4 linked regions of the Homo sapiens genome follow. The protein of the gene in region 2 purifies or fractionates together with the protein of the main gene of each other region. This does not show direct contact. Each region holds a gene or a part of one and is shown on either strand. Other genes may lie near its edges. The genes, in order: THUMPD1, FAIM, WDR47 and NAPG.

Region 1 (3,071 bases), on a different chromosome or scaffold from region 2:
TCCCATTGTGCATTGTCTGTGACATGCAACTTACAAAACTAGCAATTGTAACAATAAATCACAGCCACTTGACAAGAAAGGATATTCATTATTTTCAAATGGCTTTTGGACTATCAAAAACAGTAAGGCTTTTGTTCAGAAATCACCTTTAGTCAAAAGGTTTAAGAAGCAAATTATTTAGTAGCAGAACTTATCTCAGGAAAGGAAAATATGCATGGTTGGTGAGAATCTAATAACATTAAAATGCTGGGGCAAGATGCAGTACAAAGTTGAAGAGACTTTATTCTCAATAAGTTGATTTACTGATGATATGTCATATGATGCAAAAAAGGTTTTGTGTCATTAACTGAAAAGTAGCAGCTTCTCTATCCAGGATGATGAGTCAACAGGTTTCACTAATATTTGTCATGCTGTAGCATTTGTAAGATTTGTAAATGATGAAATTCAAAGAAAACTTTTTCTATTGCTAGGAGCCTGCCAGAACAAAGGCCAATATATAATGTTGTGACATCATATCTGATAACCAGAGGTCTGGTATCTACACTCCTGGTGCCCCATCAGTGGTTGTCTCCATAAGTCATTTTGCGTTATTAAAAAAAAAAAAAGAAATCCTGATGTTGACATTATAGCACACTGCTTTCTCCACAGAGATGCTGATATCAAAAACTTGAAGATACAGTGAAGTTCTGAATAATGTTACAAAACTGGTTACCTGTATCAAAGACCCATTTATGCAAAAATGTTAAAAAAAAAAAAAAACACCCAAAACAAAAACCTGGACAGACAGCACATAAACCTCCTGCACCATACAGACATCCAGTGGCTTCTCAGAGGAAGCGTTCTCTACAGGATATTTGAATTGAAAGGTGAATTGCCAGAGTACTTACAATAAAACAGCCAGCTTTTGCTGAGTGCTTTGGAAATGAAAAATGACTACAGAAAGTAGCCTATTTTGCAGACGTTTTTCATCACATGAACAAATGGACAAGTCTCTGAAAGGTTCTGGGGAAAAAAATTTTTCTTAAAGCGACAAGACTCTTAGATCTAAAAGGAAACTGACTTGCCACCTTGCCAGAGGAATTCTTGAAATGTTTCTGCAGCCACTTGGCCTTGAAAATAAAGGGTGCAACTCTCAAATCTTGTTCTAACCCGGCTGGAGGAACCACAAGACCCAATGAAATAGCATTTTCTCTCCTTTTCCCAGCACTAGTATATAACCTATGAGGAACCCTTGTCTCTGAATCTGCTCAGCTTGAAATTTTGTCTCTGAAGGAAGAGAATGAACTCAGCCCTAGTCTGACAGTCCTAGATTTCTGTGAAATAAGAGTATTCTTCAACTTAGTGCTCACACTCACATACCATGAGGGTTCTCTGCAGGGGTTTAGGGGTTTCCTGAATTTGAAAGTTTTTTCAAGGCCTCTTTTTGGGTAAAACAATTGAAAAGGCAGACACCAACAAAGTCTGCAAAATTAACTGTCCAGATTAAGAATATTAAGGAGCTGTAAAATTAGCTTGTAGAAATGGACTTATCCTTAAGTTTTAAAAAGTTAGGAAATCCTAAAAATGTTAGGCTTCCTGCACAAGTGGCTATGTTCATTTAATGGCTAGTGAACATGGGAATGTATTTTTATCCTCCTAGCTGGTGGTTCTGTTTGGTAAACCAGACTAGAATGATTTGAGAGGGGCAAAGAGAATAGGCAGGACCTTCCTTCTATAGCTTTACATATTTAGAATGTTAATACTTAATGACATTGAAGTTACCTTGCAATGATTGATAAGAGGATTATTAATATCAGTTAGGGGAATAGGGAGGATAGGATTTTGGTGCCTTCTTCAGCAGACTTGCTCCAAGACAAAGATTCTATTTTGATAGTGCAAGACAAAAGGACTCGGAAGAAAATTGGCCATATGCCTACAGAGCATACAACTCTGTGGAACTAAATTGTTTTTACTTTGTGAAAGCTGCTATTTTACGGAAAGATTTTGATTATACAGTTTGTTTTTAAATTGTCTTTTATATTTATTTGTATTTGGTAAGAATCGGTTGTTACACAAGCTGTTCTTTCCCAGTTACAAAATCCTGTGTTCGGTTGTAACCTGAACTCATTAAAAGACTTGTTTTCAGGTTTATCAACTGTTTATTTTCACTGACATTTGAGCATGTTATTTTATAAATGACGGGATTCCAGGGTAGGAAGTGCTTTTTATTCCCCTTTTGTTTTTTCTTTTAAAAAATTACGTCAGTTAAAAAAATAAAAAAACTGCAGTCTTATGGTTTAGAAAACTTGTTTAGCTCCATAGAGGAAAGAATGTTAAACTTTGTATTTTAAAACATGATTCTCTGAGGTTAAACTTGGTTTTCAAATGTTATTTTTACTTGTATTTTGCTTTTGGTACGGCCAGAAATCGAGCTTGTTTTTTCATAGTTCCTGATATTTTCAGAAAAATCAAAATAAATTTGTTCCCTAAAAATTGGTGTTCTAATATTTTTTCTTTCTTTCTGACTCTTAGTAAATCTCTTGCTTTATAGTATATATATATCATAAAATATGTTTATATGTCAAATTATAAAATGCCATGGACATGAGCCTAAAAAACATTAAAAAATTATTACCCTTGAATAATTAATACTTCTAAATCCAAGTTTCAGATATTTTACAGTTAATTTGCTTCAAAATGAGCCATAGTAATACAGTACTTACTTTCATTAAATTCACTTACTGATTTTTGAATTATTTATACTCATTTTAACAGTATTTTAATATATTGAAGTTTGGTCTCATAAAGTTGTTAAGTAGAAGAAATTGTCTTGAACATTTAGGATATATCTTTATTTTGAATTAATCAGGCACAAGATAGATGAAATACAGATTCATTGTGCACTTTCTTTTTCTAAGTAATCATTTGACTCCTGCAATTTTAAACACTAGAAACCATCATTACCTTTGTCAGTTTGGTTATTGAAACAATTTTCATCCATATATTTTTAGACTTTTATTTACTTTTTAATTTTTTAGCTAAGTAGAAAACAAAAACTTAAACCAGGAAGGATCTTAAACATTTTAAGAGAG
Region 2 (4,342 bases):
TCACCTCCAAGGGAGGGCATTAATGTATTCACTGGGGATCAGCCCCCATGACCCAAACACCTCCCATTAGGCCCCACTTCCCAATACTGCCACACTGGGGATCAAATTTCAACATGAGATTTGGTAAGTACAAATATCCAAACCATAGCACAGAGTTATTGCTTAATGGTTACTGTGTTTCTGTTTAAGGTATTGAAAAGTTTGGCAAATAGATAGTGACAATGATCGCACACTATTGTGAATGTACTTAATGCCCCTGAATTGTACACTAAAAAATTGTTAAAATGGCAAATCTATGTTGTATATATTTTACCACTTCAAAAAGTTAATTATATTAGAAAGAATTGTATACTTTAAATGGGTGAATTTTATGGTATGTGAGTTATATTTCAGTAACGTTGTTAAAAAAAAAAACAAAAAAAGAAAAAAAAATGCAGGTGTCCTGGCTGTAGTGTTTCTTGGGATGCAACTGCACCTGTAACCAAAAGATGATAACATCTGTCCTTGTCCCCAATTTCCACTTCACTCAGAAATATCTGTCACATAGATCTCTAAGTTACAAATTCAATTTAATAAACACATGTCATATTCTAAGTTCATCCAGCATACCAATAGTTATTGGGTACTTATGTACCAGGCTCTGGGCAGGGCACTAACCTCAGAGTGGCAGAGTCCGGAGATACCAAGAGATGATTATAGCACAACAGTGGGAGTGTCCTTATAAAGGGAAGCAGCATAGGATAGAATGGGCCATAGAGGAAGGGTCGTAGCTCTGCCGAAGAAGGCTTTGGTTTAAAACTTTGGAGAAAGTGGCCAGGCGCGATGGCTCACACCCCGTAATCCCAGCACTTTGGGAGGTCAAGGCGGTCGGATCACTTGAGGTCAATAGTTCAAGACCAGCCTGGACAAAACGGTGAAATCCTGTCTTTGCAAAAATAGAAAAATTTGCCGGGCATGGTAGCGCACGTCTGTAAATCCCAGCTACTCCGGAGGCTGAGGCACAAGAATCGCTTGAACCCGGGAGGTGGAGGTTGCAGTGAGCCGAGATCATGCCACTGCACTCCAGCCTGGGTGACAGAGGGAGATTCTGTCTGAAAAATAAAAAAATGAAACTTGGGAGCAAGAAATTAATCCACTGTTGTTTTTAAACTCTTATGCATGTACTTAATTTTCAAGATTCTATGACCAAACTGGAAAATGATAAATACAAAAAACCCTCTATTTTTGCAAATATTTTATTAAAATGTAAATTTAAAAAGATGAAAAACCATATTCCACTTACTTTCACTGATGGAGATGATACCAAGCACTTGAAACTTTTTACATGTCTTTAAAGAAAGCTTTTTGCGTATCTCATACGTACCCATCAATCTTTTAAAATCCCTTCCCTAGCAACCCAACACCTAAGTTTCAGAGCATGACTTAAACACCAACACGTTGCCACTGTTCATCTAATCCACCTGAATTTTGCCTTAACTTAGGTTTATTCTTACTGGGGACTGAAATGGTTCGTTCAAGATAAACCGAAGTCAGTTTAAAAATTACTAGATGATAGTAGTTACTAAGATGCTCATGGTTCCCTTTTCAGCAAAGGCCCCCAGGTAGGGCCAGCCAATAATGCAAGTCACACTCAAGTGTTGACATCTTCATCTCCGGGCCGGCCCCTTATGAAGTGAGGGGGGTCTCCAGTAAAATCACTCAGGAAGCTCCTCGAGCCAAGTATTCCCAAATGCTACTTACTGGAGGTACAAAAAGGAGAATAACTTTTCTGAGGGCCATTTCACAATCTATACCAGAAGCCTTGTGGTATAGACCGTGGATTCTATCTTGTTTTAGAACGAATCTTGTGCGATTCTTTCTACAGAAATGATCACGCTCAAAAACCCAGATACAACGATGCTCAATGAATTACTTTTTGCAATAACTAAAAACTGAAAACCACTTGTACGCTCACCATCAGGGAGAAACTACATTTAGTAAATCACAGTCCAAAGCCATGCCAAGAGTCAGGGATGGATGAGGTAGTCAACCTGACACACAGGAATGTACAGTCGAGAGAGAGAGAGAGAGAGAGAGAGAGTCGAGAGAGAGAGAGAGAGAGTCGAGAGAGAGAGAGTCGAGAGAGAGAGAGAGAGAGAGAGAGAGAGAGAGAGAGAGAGAGTTTCAGCACTTTATGATGCAGGTTCTGCAAAAACAAGCCCCGCTCATGTTACAAGGAAAAACCATCTGGAAGAATATACACCCTCATGTTAACGCAGCTTGTCTCTGGGGAGCAGCGGCACGGCTGCTTTGCTTGCTTCCTTGCTTTCTGTTCCACGTTTTCGACAGTGAGAAGTATTATCTTTAGAGGTCGCGAACAGGCCGGAGGAGGGTGCGGCAGGTCGCGGGGCAGGGCCTCGCTAGGCAGGGACGCCCCCGCACCGCCCCGGGCTGGCCCCGCGCCCCGCGCCCCGCCGCACCTCCACCTTTGCCGGCGGTGAGCGGGAGCCGCGTCCCGCCCCGAGGTCTGGGATCACCGGCGGGCCGGCTGGAAGCGTCCGGAACTCACCCAGCGTCTCACCCGCGCGGGTCTCACCGACCGCGCAAACACCGCCCGCCGCCGCCGCCCAGAGATGGCCGCCGCCGGCGCAGCAGGGCCGAGAGCGTGGGGACGCCGGGGGGCTGAGTGCAGGGGTTTCCAGGGTGCGGAGCGGGCGGGCCCGAGGCGTCCGGGCGGGCGCAGGCGCGACACCGACCCCACCCGGTCTGCTGCCTCACCTGTGCTCTGTGGGCCGCGGGAGGCTCTGGGGTAGGTTTCACCAAACAACCGGTTGGTTCCGACTCGGCTGCGTAGGCCGCGTGGCCTTGCTCCCCTGGCCGAGAAACAGGCGCAGCCGGCGCGGAGGTTGAAAGCTCTGCAGGCGCGAGTACCAAACGCGCCGACTGTTTGTCGCGCCTCTCAGGTCCCCTGGGGCGACCAGCGCAGGAGGCCACCCCTCCCGCCGCCACGGACCCAACCCTGGTCCTCTGCCTTAGCCGAAGGCCGCACCCTCCGCGCATAGGCCTTCCTCAGCCCCAACCCAGGACATCACCATGTCCCGCAGTGCGTCCAGTCTTCCTGCCAGCAAGTGTGGGTAGGAGCCGGCCGCTGGCCCCGCTCTGGGCTAGACGGTGGGGACATACTGGCGGGCAAAAACAGCCCTGTGCCTGCTCTGCAGCTATGGGGAAGGAATATCTGTTCATGGCAGCAATAGCATTCGCTCCTTAAAACCTCTTTATGAGTCTCATTCCTTTTTTAAAGACCCAAACTACTTAAGGTGGGCATGAAGCCCCCATGTGTGATCTAGCCTCTGCCTGCTTGGCTTCATTTAGGTCCTTAAAGGATGCAGGTTTCTTCTCGCCCAGGGCCTCTGCAAATGCTCTTCTCTCTGCCTGGACACTCCTCACCTCTTCCCTATTGTGAGAGTTCTTCATATATCATTTCTTAGATTACACTATCCTGGCCCATAAGACTTGCAGCATTGCTGGGTGTGGTGGCTCATACCTGTAATCACGGCATTTTGGGAGGCAGAGTGGCGGATCTCTTGAGTCCAGGAGTTCAAGACCAGCCTGGGCAACATGGTAAAAAAAAAAAAAAAGAGAGAGAGAGAATGAGAAAGAAGAAAAGAAAATAATTAGCGGCTCAGGCCTGTAATCCTAGCTACTTGGGACGCTGAGGTGGGAGAATTGCTTGGGCCCTGAAGGGAGGTAGAGGCTGCAGAGAGCTGTGATTGCACCACTACACTCCAGCCTGGGCAACAGAGCGAGACCCTGTTTCATTAAAAAAAACACACACAAAAAGAAACAGCCGGGCTCAGTGGCTCACGCCTGTAATCCCAGCACTTTGGGATGCTGAGGCAGGCATGGCAAAACCCCGTCACTACTGAAAATATAAAACTTAGAGGGGCGTGGTGGTGCATGCCTGTAGTCCCAACTACTTGGGAGGCTGAGGCAGGAGAATCGCTTCAACCTGGGAGGTGGAGGTTGGAGTGAGCTGAGATTGAGCCACTGCACTCCAGCCTGGGCGAAGAGCAAGACTCTGTCTCAAAAAAAAAAAAAAAAAAAAACAGCCGGGCACAGTGGCTTACACCTGTAATCCCAGCACTCTGGGAGGCCAGGTGCGGATTGCCTGAGGTCAGAAGTTTGAGACCAGCCTGGCCAACGTGGTGAAACCCTAGCTCTACTAAAAATACAAAAATTAGCCGGGCGTGGTGGCATGCGTCTGTAATCCCAGCTACTCAGGAGGCTGAGGCAGGAGAATCACTTGACCTTGGGAGGTGGCAGTTGCAGCGAACTGAGATCGCCTCACTGTACTGCAGCCTGA
Region 3 (3,437 bases), on a different chromosome or scaffold from region 2:
AGGTGTGGTGGCGGGCGCCTGTAGTTCCAGCTACTTGGGAGGCTGAGGCAGGAGAATGGCATGAACTGGGAGGTGGAGCTTGCAGTGAGCCGACATTGCACCACTGCGCTCCAGCCTGGGCGACAGAGCGAGACTCTGTCTCAGAAAAAAAAAAAAAAAAAGTCTATAAAACCCTGCCTCTGATTTATTCTTCTGTGTCTCTCTCTCTTAGTTCACTAAGTTCCAGGCACATTGGCTTCCTGTAGTGTCATGAACGTGCTAAGCTGGTTCCTACTTCAGCATCTTTATACTTGCTGTGCTCTTCTCCTAATATCCTGGCCTGGCTTGTTCCTCCTCATCATTCTGGTCTCTATGCAAATGGCATTTCCTTGGAGAGACCTACTCCAATTATCCTATTTAAAATAGCCTTCCCCCTGCAGTGAGCCAAGATGCACCACTGCACTCCAGCCTGGGCAACAGAACAAGACTCTGTCTCAAAATAAATAAATAAATAGCCTTCCCCTATTCACCCTAGTCACTATCTCCCTACCATACTAATTTTTTAAACAGCACAAATACCTAAAATTACATTGTTTATTGGTTTACTTTTTATTGACCTCTAAAATATAAGCTCCATCAGGGAGGGAATTAACTGTCTTATTCTCATCTGTCAGTCCCTAATTGATATACAATAAATATTTGCTTGATGAATGTTTAAAACTAAAACTAGATACTAAGACCTAATTACAAAGATTGTATGCTAATGATTTTTTAATGTAGAAGCTAATAACAGTACACAAATCCATCATTTATCTCAGAATGAGTCACTATAAATAAATGTTGATTTTAAAAAATATCTTAAGCGGAGGCAGGAGGATCACTTGAGGCCTGGAATTCAAAACCAGCCTGGGCAACATGGCAAGATCCCATCTTTACAAAAAAATTTTTAAAATGTGCCATCCATGGTGGTGCACAGATGTAGTTCCAGCTATTCGGAGGCTGAGGCAGAAGGATGGCTTGAACCCAGGAGGTCAAGGGTGTAGTGAGCAATAATCGTGCCACTGCACTCCAGCCTGGGTGAAAGAGTGAGACCCTGCCTCAAAAAAAAAAAATCAAAAACTAACAATAAGGTTGGGCATGATGGCTCACGCCTATAATCCCAGCACTCTGGGAGGCCAATGCAGGCAGATCGCTTGAGCTCAGAAGTTTGAGACCAGCCTGCGCAACATGGCAAAATTTTGTCTCTACAGAAGATACAAATATTAGCCAGGTGAGGTGGCATGCACCTGTAGTCCTAGCTACTTGCAGGGCTGAGGTGGGAGGATCACTTGAGCAGGGGAGATAAGAGGATACAGTGAGCTAAGATCACACCACTGCACTCCAGCCTGGGCGACAGAGCGAGACCCTGTCTCAAAAACAAAAACAGGCTGGGCGTGGTGGCTCACGCCTGTAATCCCAGCACTTTGGGAGACGAAGGCGGATGGATCACTTGAGCCCAGGAGTTCGAGACCAGCCTGGGCAACATAGTGAGCCCCTGCCTCTATAAAAACAAAAACAAAACCTAACAATAAGACTATTCACTGCTTATTTAATAATTTGCTATTATATATCTTAATATAGTCTCAGAATCTGCTCAATAAATACTATAAAATAATTGAAAGTATTATATAATCAACCACATCACATTAACAAAAAAATAAAGGTCCCAAATAGAACAGGAAAGACTAAAAACAGAGAAGTCGATCTCAATCACCTTGTAGGTCTGTCACCTTTATTTTCATATCATAAGAGCCTGTTAGCAAGTAGTGAGCTCCAGGGGAGAATCGAACAGAGCGAACATCACTGGAATGAGGATGATAACTTTGTACCATTCTTCCTCCTCTTATGTCATACAACATGCAGCTAGAATCTTCTTGACCTGTGGCTAAGAGACGACCACTGGGATCTACAGCTACAGATGCCACTGCACTGCCTGTAGTGGTAGGAATGAAAGTTTAAATACAGAAAATCAATATACCCAAATGGCAACACAGCTGATTATGTCCATTGAACCATATACTAAAGATTTAATGTAGTTTATCAATACTATTCAGCGATGAAAAAATCCAAATTAACAGTTAACCAATAAACAGTTGTGTCCTTTTAAGGCCCAAGGCCTAAACAAAATTTTGTAAGAAATGAGAAAGTCCATTTTTTGTCATTTGAGAGAACTGTGTGCAACAGCATCACCTATAGTGCAATAGATGAGCCATGCTACAGAAACCACTTTTCTCAATCCAGTGTTTTCACTACTGGAAGTATCTAGAAATGCTCCTATACCCAGCTAAGAGTGTAGTTAAAGAGACAAGAAATTCAGTAACAAAATGTATTTTAGGACAACAGTATAGGAAATGTACTAAAGCAACACAAGATTACTGCCAATAGGAACTGTGAACAGAAAATAAGCTCTTGGGGGCATATATTCAGGGCAACTTGAATCCTTGTCTCCCAGAAATAAAATAAATAATTTTATTTTATAAATTATTATAATTAATAATTATTTTGTTAATTAATTATACAGGCTGGGCGCGGTGGCTCATGCCTGTAATCCAGCACTTTGGGAGACCGAGGCAGGTGGCTCACAAGGTCAGGAGATCGAGACCAGCCTGGCCAACATGGTGAAACCCCATCTCTACTAAAAATACAAAAGTTAGCCGAACGGAGTGGCACGTGCCTGTAATCCCAGCTACTCACGATGCTGAGGCAGGAGAATCGCTTCAACCTGGGAGGCGGAGGTTGCAGTGAGCTGAGATTGCGCCACTGCACTCCAACCTGGGCGACAGAGCGAGACTCCATCTCAAAAAAAAATAATAAATTTTTTTGAGACAGAGTGAGACCCTGTCTCAAAAAAATAAATTAAAAAAAAAAAAGTTTGAATAACACTGCTCTAGACCAAAGTGGTCTAGGAAGACTTCATAAAAAAATGGGACACAAGTTAGACCTTGAAAAACAATAAACAGCATAAATAAGAGTATGTATGTATGTATACACAGGCGAACACATACATTTGTATGTAATAAAGAATAATCTTTTCTTGAAATACTGAAAGAGAAGAGGGCTATTACGATCAGGAAGAATTACATGAGAAAAGGTTTAGAGGAAAAGTATAAAACAGCTTACAGGAAGGTAGATCAGTTTGGCTGGAGATAAAAGTTAACTTGAAAGGCAGCTTGAAACTGAAATGCAAAAGGTAGGTTAGGGCCAGGCCGTCAAGCGCCTAAATCTCAAACTGCAGAGTTTTGAACTTGTCTCTGTAAACAGTAAAGCATCATTGTAGGTTTCTAAGCAAGAGAATTACATGATTCGAGCAGTACTTTGAGTAATCTAAGTGAAAATGTGTATCAAATTAAAGTGGAAAGATTGTAGAACAAAAGAGGCCACTAGAAGACAAGAAAGATTTCAGGAACAAAACCTGAATA
Region 4 (3,743 bases), on a different chromosome or scaffold from region 2:
TTTTTTATTTTAAGTTCTGGGACACATGTGCAGAATGTGCAGGTTTGTTACATAGGTATACATGTCCCATGGTGGTTTGCTATACCTATCAACCCATCATCTAGGTTTTAAGCCCCGCATGCATTAGGTATTTGTCCTAGTGCTCTCCCTCCCCTTATTCCCCAGCCCCCGACAGGCCCAGGAGTGTGATGTTCCCCTCCCTGTGTCCATGTGTCCTTGTGGTTCAATTCCCACGTATGAGTGAGAACATGCGGTGTTTGGTTTTCTGTTCCTGTGTTTGTTAGTTTGCCAAGAATGATGGCTTCCAGCTTCATCCATGTCCCTGCAAAGGACATGATCTCATTCTTTTTTACAGCTGCATAGTATTCCATGGTGTATATGTACCACATTTTCTTTATCCAGTCTATCACTGATGGGCATTTGGGTTGGTTCCATGTCTTTGCTATTGTAAATGGTGCTACAATAAACATACGTGTTTACTGTATAAACATACGTTTCTATAGAATGATTTATGTTCCTTTGGGCATATGCCCAGTAATGGGATTGCTGGGTCAAATGGTATTTCTGGTTCTAGATCCTTGAGGAATCCCCACACTGTCTTCCACAACGGTTGAACTAATTTACACTCCCACCAACAGTATAAAAACTTTCCTATTTCTCCACAGCCTGGCCAGCATCTATTGTTTCCTGACTTCTTAATCATCACCATTCTGACTGGCGTGAGATCTCATTGTGGTTTTGATTTGCATTTCTCTAATGATCAATGATGATGAGCTGTTTTTCATGTTTCTTGGCTGTATGTCTTCTTTTTCTACAAGGAACTTAAATTTACAAGAAAAAAAAAACCCAATCAAAAAGTGGGCAAAGGATATGAAATACAATTATTTTATCCCTAATTCATGAAAGTAAATGACTCAAATACATTGTATAGCAATAAAGATATTTAAAATGAAATGCTTCACATGATTACTCTCCCAATCAAGCTTCATTAAACCCAATCAAAAAGGTACCAGGTAATTTCTACACAGAGTTCATCATCACTTCACAGACCTTTGGGAAATCTATGAAAATAGAAAAAACCAAAAACCTTGCTCTTTACTGTTTTCTAAGCACTTCTTATTCTTTAAACATTTACCAAGTCCCTACTACATACAAGACCTATGCCAAGGATCACAAACTGGCAGCCCAATGACTCTATCTCACTTCCAAGTGTGTTTTGCTTGATCCATGCAGTATTTTTAAATTAGATACTTTCATGAAAATTGTTTTATGGCTTTCTTCAAAAAAATATCAAAAGCTACGGCATCAGCAGGCTTGCATCCCTGTATGGCAACAGGCTGGGGCTGGGCAGCACTGTCCCGCCACATGAGCATGCACCTCCTGGCGCTTCTCCCCGCTCTTCACTTCCAAATGCCCTCCACGTCCCAGCTGCTCATTCATTTTAGTTATTCCTCTACACCCTGAGTTCATCTGAGTTTGCAACCCTCTTCCATGACTAATAAATTCTGTATCTTACTATTAATCTACACATCTCAGGATCATGCAGTCCTAATGTCTAATATCTCCAAATCAAACATTTTAAAAATAAACTTAAAAAAAAACACCGTTTAAAAGCTAGTTATAAAGTTTACATAAGCAACTTATTTAGTGTTGACTTGCTGTATCTTAAGGTAGGCTCCACACTGACATCTCATGGGTGGTTTACAAATCTGCCTATTCAGTCCCTTGCTAAGTTGACAAATTCATTAGGATACCCTTAACAAAACTGGTCTCATTTTCGCCAACCCCAAAACATAACTTTATTATTTAGCTATGGAAACTAACAATAACACAGACTGAAAGACACTGTATGAAATAAGACTGCTATCATTCACTCAAGCAGAATGAAATGCTAATGCATTTCCAAACCTCAGTGAAAAAATAAAAACAATACTTTTTTTGTTATAAAACCAAAAGTCAATGAAAGAATCCGAGTCTACAATATCTGCTGAAAAATATCTGAATGAACAGGGGAGGTAAACCTAACAAAATCTCTCTCAGACACATTAGTCCTGAGGGTCATTTTGGCTTTTAAAGAATACAACTGAACCTTGAACAGCAGAGATTTAAACTGTGCTGGTCCAATTATACGCAGACTGTCTTGCTCCTCTGCCACCTGAGACAGCAAAACCAACCCCTCTTCTTCCTCCTCCTCCTCTTCCTCCTCCTCAGCCCAAACGTGAAGACTATGATGAGGATGAAGAGCCCTATGATGCTCTACTTCCACTTAAAGAACACTAAATATATTTTCTCTTCCTTACGATTTTCTTAATATTTTCTTTTCTCTAGCTTTATTCTAAGAATACAGTATAAAACATATTCCATACAACATACAACATATGTACTAACTGACTGTTTATATTATTTATAAGACTTCCAGTCAGTAGTAGGGTAGTGGCTCACGCCTATAATCCCAGCACTTTGGGAGGTTGAGGCAGAAGTATCACTTGAGCCCAGGAGTTTGAGCCCAGCCTGGGAAAAACAGCGAGAACCAGTCTCTACCAAAAAAATTAAAAAATTAGCAGGGCATGGTGACATGCACCTATAGTCCCAGCTACTCAGGAGGCTGAGGTGGGAGGATCGCCTGAGCCCAGGAGGTTGAGGCTGCAGTAAGCCATGATTGTGCCACTGCAATCCAGCCTGGGCAACAGAGCAAGATCCTGTCTCAAAAAAAAAAAACAAAAACAGGCTATTAGTAAAGTTTTTGGGGAGTAAAAAGTTATATGTAGAGTTTCAACTGCACAAGGGGTTGGCATCCCAACCCTTGGGTAGTTCAAGGGTCAACTGTATTTCCTCCCCAAATATACCTACCCACTAATTACATATATAATGTGAATCTACAACATAAAAGCATTTGGGAGGATAAAAAAACCACAGGAACTATTCGTCATGAGTTTTACCCAGTAGATAGAGCAAAAAATACATTAGAAGGCAGTAAAAATGGCATCCGAGTCCTATTTGTTGTTTAAAAATTAGCAACTACATCTTCCTGTTTTTGCGTAAAATCAAGTGAGGCTGTGAGTAAGAGGTCCAACCACAATATTGATACTTCTCCATAAAAAATGATGAGCTGCCTACTTGAAAGTTATACCCTCCACCATAAATATGCCTATTTTCAATGGCTGTGTGCCAGTGGAGCAAACAGGATATGAAATCACAGCAGTCATCAAGTGACAGAACCAAAGGTTGATCCAACAAGTTTCTGTGGCTTCCCTTGTGCATATGTCTACAAAATGGCACTCCCCAAGCCTTTCTGGTGAATCAGTGTGAAGGTTTGTATGACAAATTGGTAGAAATTTTAGCCCACAGAATTGTGGACCACGTAGCTCAGGGGTCCTGTGCTCCCAACAGTGTCCAAAGGCATTTAATTTAAATATAAGACAATGCCAGAAAGCATTTTCCTTCATCTGTTTCCCTATCCACTAAGTTAATTTTCTTTCATTCAAAGTAGTGCCTTTCCAACCCTCAAATTAAATAGATACTTGAGCAATGGAAATGATGCCTGAATAATAACTTTTGATGAAGATTCAAGTCTTAGTACAGCTGTTGTAATATAAACTGAGGCTGTGAGAATTAGAGTGTTTGAGCATTTCTTAAACAGGCATGAAGTACACTAAGAATGTAACAGCCACCTGGGAGCTTCCTAATTCTCAGAGGAAAATGAGACATAAGAAGACCAGAGCAGATCCCCAGCTTCTTTGGCC

The links.
Region 1: the proteins of FAIM (region 2) and THUMPD1 fractionate together in Homo sapiens (co-fractionation; one large-scale study listed by BioGRID). This does not show direct contact.
Region 3: the proteins of FAIM (region 2) and WDR47 purify together in Homo sapiens (affinity purification with mass spectrometry; one large-scale study listed by BioGRID and IntAct). This does not show direct contact.
Region 4: the proteins of FAIM (region 2) and NAPG purify together in Homo sapiens (affinity purification with mass spectrometry; one large-scale study listed by BioGRID and IntAct). This does not show direct contact.

The regions. Positions count from the first base shown.
Region 1 is NC_000016.10:20,733,065-20,736,135, reverse strand, and holds the end of THUMPD1 (THUMP domain-containing protein 1), read left to right. Parts: 3' UTR 1-2,472; downstream 2,473-3,071. UniProt on the Homo sapiens protein: Functions as a tRNA-binding adapter to mediate NAT10-dependent tRNA acetylation modifying cytidine to N4-acetylcytidine (ac4C).
Region 2 is NC_000003.12:138,607,353-138,611,694, reverse strand, and holds the start of FAIM (fas apoptotic inhibitory molecule 1), read right to left. Parts: upstream 2,925-4,342; 5' UTR 2,758-2,924; intron 2,647-2,757; exon of another isoform or gene 2,549-2,646; intron 1,092-2,548; exon of another isoform or gene 738-1,091; coding exon of another isoform or gene 658-737; intron 1-657. UniProt on the Homo sapiens protein: Plays a role as an inducible effector molecule that mediates Fas resistance produced by surface Ig engagement in B cells.
Region 3 is NC_000001.11:108,972,804-108,976,240, forward strand, and holds part of WDR47 (WD repeat-containing protein 47), read right to left. Parts: intron 1,952-3,437; coding exon 1,733-1,951; intron 1-1,732.
Region 4 is NC_000018.10:10,535,938-10,539,680, reverse strand, and holds part of NAPG (gamma-soluble NSF attachment protein), read right to left. Parts: intron 749-3,743; exon of another isoform or gene 710-748; coding exon of another isoform or gene 707-709; intron 1-706. UniProt on the Homo sapiens protein: Required for vesicular transport between the endoplasmic reticulum and the Golgi apparatus.